Linked DNA regions of Homo sapiens: region 1 is linked to region 2. The links come from fine-mapping of genetic effects on gene expression. A gene starts in region 2. The other region holds a variant in brackets. All regions are shown on one strand. Distances are between the middles of the regions. Region 1 has its middle 2.2 kb from the start of MIR1273C. Region 2 holds the start of SCAF8 (SR-related CTD associated factor 8).

Evidence for each region. PIP is the estimated chance that this variant, and not a neighbour inherited with it, causes the effect.
Region 1: its variant is fine-mapped to the expression of SCAF8 in whole blood (TOPMed, PIP 0.91).

Annotation. Positions count from the first base shown.
Region 1 is chr6:154,854,114-154,857,031 of GRCh38, forward strand. No RefSeq gene overlaps it. Among named protein-coding and RNA genes, the nearest start is that of MIR1273C, 2.2 kb to the left of the region's middle. The variant A/C (reference allele first, on the strand shown) is at 1,309.
Region 2 is chr6:154,732,290-154,735,207 of GRCh38, forward strand. It overlaps SCAF8 (SR-related CTD associated factor 8), which reads left to right and starts at 1,127. Exons shown (of 20, transcript NM_014892.5): 1 at 1,127-1,641. The coding sequence starts at 1,612. RefSeq lists silencers at 760-999, 1,030-1,149, 1,300-1,899 and an enhancer at 1,160-1,663.

The sequences.
Region 1 (2,918 bases), 120 kb after region 2:
ATGGTGTATTTAAGAGTTTTATTTGATACCATCTCTGGTAATATTAGAGCCTTGAGAGCATGTCTCATATGAATATTTTTATTTTGCCTATAGATTGAATTTCATGAAATGTTGAGGTGGAAGTCTGTGGATTAGGACTGAGGGAATACCTTCTTTGGTTCTTTCTGATTTTTTGACAGGCTTCCCTAAGTTTGTCCTAGGCCTCACTCTACCTTAGTAGATACTGGCAATGTGCCCATTAGGAGAGAATAGAATTCAGTAAAATGTGAAAGGTTTTTAAAAAGTGTCATTGATAAATAAGATGAAAAGATTGGAAACCATCAAAGCTTTATTACTTAAAAGTTAACGTAGGCACTATGTTCAGCTCAAGTACCTTAAGAGGTATGTCTTCGTGCTTACACATCAACATACAGAGGTTAATGTTGTTATATGGCACAACTTTTGTGTAGGAAATGTTTCAGTCACAGTATTAAAGTTTCTATTAAAATATTTCTAAAAATATGGGAAATGTGACATTTTAAATTAATGGGCCTGAAAAAAATAGCTTAAAGTTAAATGTTTTTATCGGATTATAAGAGTTCCAAGTTTCTTTCTAGATTATTTGAAATAGTTTACAAAATGCTATTTTAAACAGACTTTCAACCTGTTTCAAAACTCAAATATAGATGCCTGAGGGTTGAGAGAAAGAGAGTGTGTTACCACATGTTTATCATTGGAATGTAGAAACAAATTCATACTCAATTCAGCAAATACTTATTGAATAATATATATATTTCAGATGCCTTGATAAAAATTGGTGACAGTAGGTAATTGAGAAAGATATTACGTTATTGACAGAACACAGTTCCTGCCTTCAAGGAGTTTACCTTTTAGTGAGAAACAACCAGTAAATTCTATTTCAATATAATGTATGAATTGCTGTAACAGATTGGGTACGTAAGATACAGCTAGAACATAGAGAAAGGATGCTAGTTGCTAGATTTTCATTAGAAGATGCATTTTTGTTTCAGCAAATTAACTTCCTAAGTCTCAATATCCTCATCTATAAAACTAGAAATAAAAAGTACCTGGAAGACTCATTTTGAGGGTCAAATGAAAATACATGTGCAGTGCTTAGTACAATACATAAAACAGACTGCATAATAAATGTTGACTGCTGCTAATACTTAGTGGCCATTACTTAGGAAATCTTTCCTTCTGTCTTTGTGATTTCTGCTTCCCTTTCTTCTTTATTTATTTATTTTATTTTTAATATTCGTAGCCCTAGTCCATGGATTTGAAGGAAACATTGCTAAAATCATGGAGGTA[A/C]AATTTAGGTTTCTTTGGACATTTCTTTTCTCCTATTGTCCCTTCCCTGCCCACCCAACATGAATAACCCTAGTCTCCTCTTTAACTTTTGAAAGTTTCCGGAACAGTAATGGTAGGGTCCTTTTACAGCATGATGTCACGTGTTACTCAAGACTTGTACTGTCCAGTATGGTAGCCTTTAGTCACCTATTGCTATTTAAATTTATAAAAAATTAAAAATTCAGTTCCTCAGTCACACCAGTCACACTTAAATGCTCAACAGCCACATTAGCTAGTGCCTACCAAATTGAGCGGCACAAGTACAGAACATTTCCAGGAGGTCCTATTTTATAGCGTTACTCTAGAAGAGCAATTGCTGATAACATAGGCTGTTTACCTTAATTAAAATTATATGATTCAGAATTCTCTGTCCCAAACTATATTTAAATTTTTTTTTTTTTTTAATTCTCACTTCTGGTTAGTTTCCATTAAGGAGTTACCATGCTTCACAATGCTGATTCTTATTTTTATAAATATAAACTCTACATTGGTATTTCAATTTGTGTTTTAAGTCTTACTAAAATGTCTTGGGGTGTTTTTTTCAAATATAATTCAGTGAAGTTTTCAGACTCTTTTAAGTCACATCTTTAAAATGCTATTTCTGATTAAAGATAACGTAACATAATGTTGCGATAAATATGTATTCTGCTCTACAATAAATATATAGACTGCTTTACTCCCTTCTTTCTTCTTCAGTCTTTTATGTATTATATTTGCCTTTTCTGAGCAATTCAGCTTGCTTTTTCCAAATACAGTATTCAGTTAGGGTGTTTCATACACCAGCTGCCATTTACATCTATGTTATTACCTATGGCAGACACCTACACATGCTGACAGACAATTTTAAGTCAGTCAGTCCATCCTTAAGGTTACCAAAAGACCAGAAAGATTATCTACTGACTGCTGCTGGGCAGATTTTACACTGAGTTTGAAGTGTTCAGTTATATATAACATTCTGGCTCAGTTCGTCAAGAACTCATCCATAATTCTTCCTGGAAGTGTCCTCATGTGCAACTGTCAGGATCTTTCCAGAGAGACTTTTAAAAAAATTCTGTAACCCTAAAAATGATGTTTGCTACTTTTTGATTTGTTGCAATATAAACAGGTAATATTTACAGACAATATAAGTAAATACTGAGTTCCTTTTCATACTATGAACTACGTTATTGCTATGTTGACCTGTTGAGTTCACTGTATACTTTATGAAGCCATATTCTCAACAATATATCATGATATCAATGATCTTTAGTAATTAGTCTTTTATTCTGAAAGATTGGGCACCAGATCAGAGTTGAAGAGAAAGTGAATAAGCCTTTAATGTTTTAACAATATCTTGGAGTTTGAAAACACCATAGAGATCACTGGCTGTATTTTTTAGAAAAGAAAAAATTTAAAAGAAATTGTGACTTATAGTCATGGGCCTACGTAGCAGTTTTCTTTTTTAATGTATACTTTATTCCATATAAGTTGGTATATAATGTTTACAATTTACACATCTCTATAGAAATGCAATGAACAAATTTGAATTCAGAGAGACTCAAAGAGGGCCAGTTACTTCATGTCTCATTGTC
Region 2 (2,918 bases):
CCAGGCCCTATACTAAAGCTGCCAATGAAGTAGAATGAAGGCTCTGAAACCTCAAGAAGGGCCTTACTTTCCCAGTTTCACGGGGCTCTGCGCACAGCTCTTAGGAACTACCTTGATTCCAAAACTCTCCAAAAGTACGATCCTGCCCTTATGTTCCTCTCTCCCTTTGAGTGAATTTGGGAATGATTGTTGAAAAATGACTTTCAACAAGAGGACAGCAGTGTTCGGGGTTCCACGATACATCCCTATCTTTTAACATCGATAAGTATTTTTAAATTGGTACCTTATTTTGCGCTGCACGAGAGAGAAGGCTTTTTACTAGCAGCATCTCCTAATCCATCTAAGAAATACTGTATTTACCTTTACTCCAAGTATCCTAGGGCAAAATTCCTTTAGAACAATTCATCTTCCGAAACAGACGGGTTCCCTTTTCACCTATTCAAGTGTTGTGCATTCTAGGGTCCCCTTCCCGCCTTGCAGACAAATGCGCTCATTGTGCCACTCCAGTCCCTGGATCCTATGCAGCGGGCATTTCCTGCAAGGAGCTGCTGCATGCCTGTTTCCCTCGCCGCCTGCCCCAACCCGAATCCAAGGCTTTGGTTTCTAATGTTCCCTCCCTGTGCAGTTAAAACAATTGAGTTCAGTTACTAAATAGATGACCAGGAACTTTTTCTTGGCGAAGGCTGCGGATGTTTAGGGCACTGTCCAGTAAAGTTGTGAAAAGCAACTAAACCCTGCCGCTTGTGCAAAAGGACCAATCCACCGGGAAACAAGGGAAACGCGCACATTTCCTCAACTTGCCGCTTCTTGGGCACGTTTAGGCTCTTATTAGAGCCGCGCTTTGGAGTTGCCTCCTCCTGCTGTACAAACCCGCCGCGGCGTTCCCCCGGATGCCGCAGCGCTCACTCCCGCGTCCGCGGGGCGCGGGGAGGGGGCGAGGCGCGGGCGGCCCCGGAGCCAAGGCGAGGGCAGCGGAGCCCAGCCGGGCCTACGGGCGGCGACGCTCTGGCCCCAGCGCGCTCGATGGTTTCCGCGCGGCCGCCGGGGCTCGCACGGTCCAGTCGCCAGGGGGCGCGCTAGCCGGCGCCGCGGATCCCCGAACTGCGCGGCCCGACTCGAGTCCGCCATATTGGATGCCGCAGCCGCTGCTGCCAGCGCTTCCTCCTCTGTCTTCGCCGAGCGGGGCTGGTTCCTGCGGCCCGAGCGGCGGGGAGGTGAAACAGGAGCCCGTCGGAGGAAGGGGCAGAAGGGAGTGGAGAGTGTAGGGGAAGGGGCTAGAGGGAGGGGGACCGAAACGGAGCGGGGCAGAGAAGAGAAGGCGCCGCGGCCCAGCCCCTCCCCCGCCCGCCGCCGACCCGCCCCGGCAGCGCCTCTGTTCCCTAGAACGGCGCTCCCCCCGCCCTAGCGGCCATGCCGGTGCCGCTCTGCCGCTGAGGGAGCCCTTCCCCGCCAGCGCGTGCCCTTCCACTCCGCCCCGAGGTCGCAGCGGCCCGCTCTCCCGCCAGCGCCCCCTCCTCGCGGCCACGCAGCAGCCCGCGTCTCGCTCTCCCCACCCAGTGCAGTGGCCGCCGCCTCTTCCGCCGCCGGGCTCGGGGCCTCCGCAGCGACAACATGGAGGCCGTGAAGACCTTCAATAGCGAGGTTGGTATGGCAGCCGGGTTCCCCTGCTCCTGCCCGCACCGCCCCCACCCCTGGTCGAGGCCGGGGCCCGGAGGGTGGGCGCGGGCCTGCGGGTTTTTTAAGGGTGGGGTGAGCGGTGGCCTAGCAGTGCCCGTGGGGGAGGGGTGTTTCTCCTCTGGGTGCCCCTCCCCCGGGTCCGGGAGGAGGGTTGGGGGAGGGCCGCCCTGGGGCGGAGGGAGGTTCTGGCGTCTCCGGCGTCCTATGGAATGGCTGCGAGCTCGGAGGGAAAGACCCGGTTGGGCCCTCACCCGGAGACTCCCGACAGGTCCCTCGAGGTCAGTTCCGCCGAGGCCTGGCCCGCCCACCTCCTTCCTGGGCCTTTGAGGATTTAAGTGGACGCTGGACATGACTCTCCAGACCTTCCCGGGTCCTCACTGAGGCTAACACCGATTGGGGGCGGTGGGGGAAATGAACCTACGGGGTGTTGATCTGTGGTCACGTTACACGTAGTGTTTATAATTGAGGCATTGTTGACTAGGTAATTTGCCAGCTAGGGACTTGAGCTAATTGGATGGTTGGTAGGCAGGCAAAGGTTATTCTGCAATATCTTTTATTTTTACTCGCTCCTCTTCTAATCCATCACGACATAAAGACAAATGGTAGGGAGAGATCTGTGCATCGAGAGATGGAAGATTATGGGGGAAACATTTCTCGCTGGTTCATTCACGTGTCAAACAAGATTTTAAAAAGCAGATTCCATTTTCACTGTGTAGTTGAATTTACTAGTCTGGAAGAAGACAGGTTTTGATGTATTCAATTTCTTTTTAAACTCCGACTTCAATAGGCCTTAATGTAAACATCAAACATAGCAAGTACACATCTGCACAGTCAGCATTAGTATCCCTACCCGTACGCCTTGGAAAGTGTAATTATGGCCGGGAACAGTGGCTCAGGCCTGTAATCCCAGCACTTTGGGAGGCCGAGGCGGGCCAATCACGAGGTCAGGAGTTCAAGACCAGCCTGGCCAACGTGGTGAAACCCTGTCTCTACTAAAAATACAAAAAATTAGCTGGGCGTAGTGGCAGGCACCTGTAATCCCAGCTACTTAGGAGGCTGAGGCAGGAGAATCGCTTGAACCTGGGAAGCGGAGGTTGCAGTGAGCCGAGATCTGCGCCACTGCAATCCAGCCCAGTGACAGAGTGAGACTCTGTCTACAAAAAAAAAAAAAAGAAAAAGAAAAAGTGTAATTATGCTGGTAACTAAATTAGCATAAATTTTATGAACTCTTAAAGTGCCAA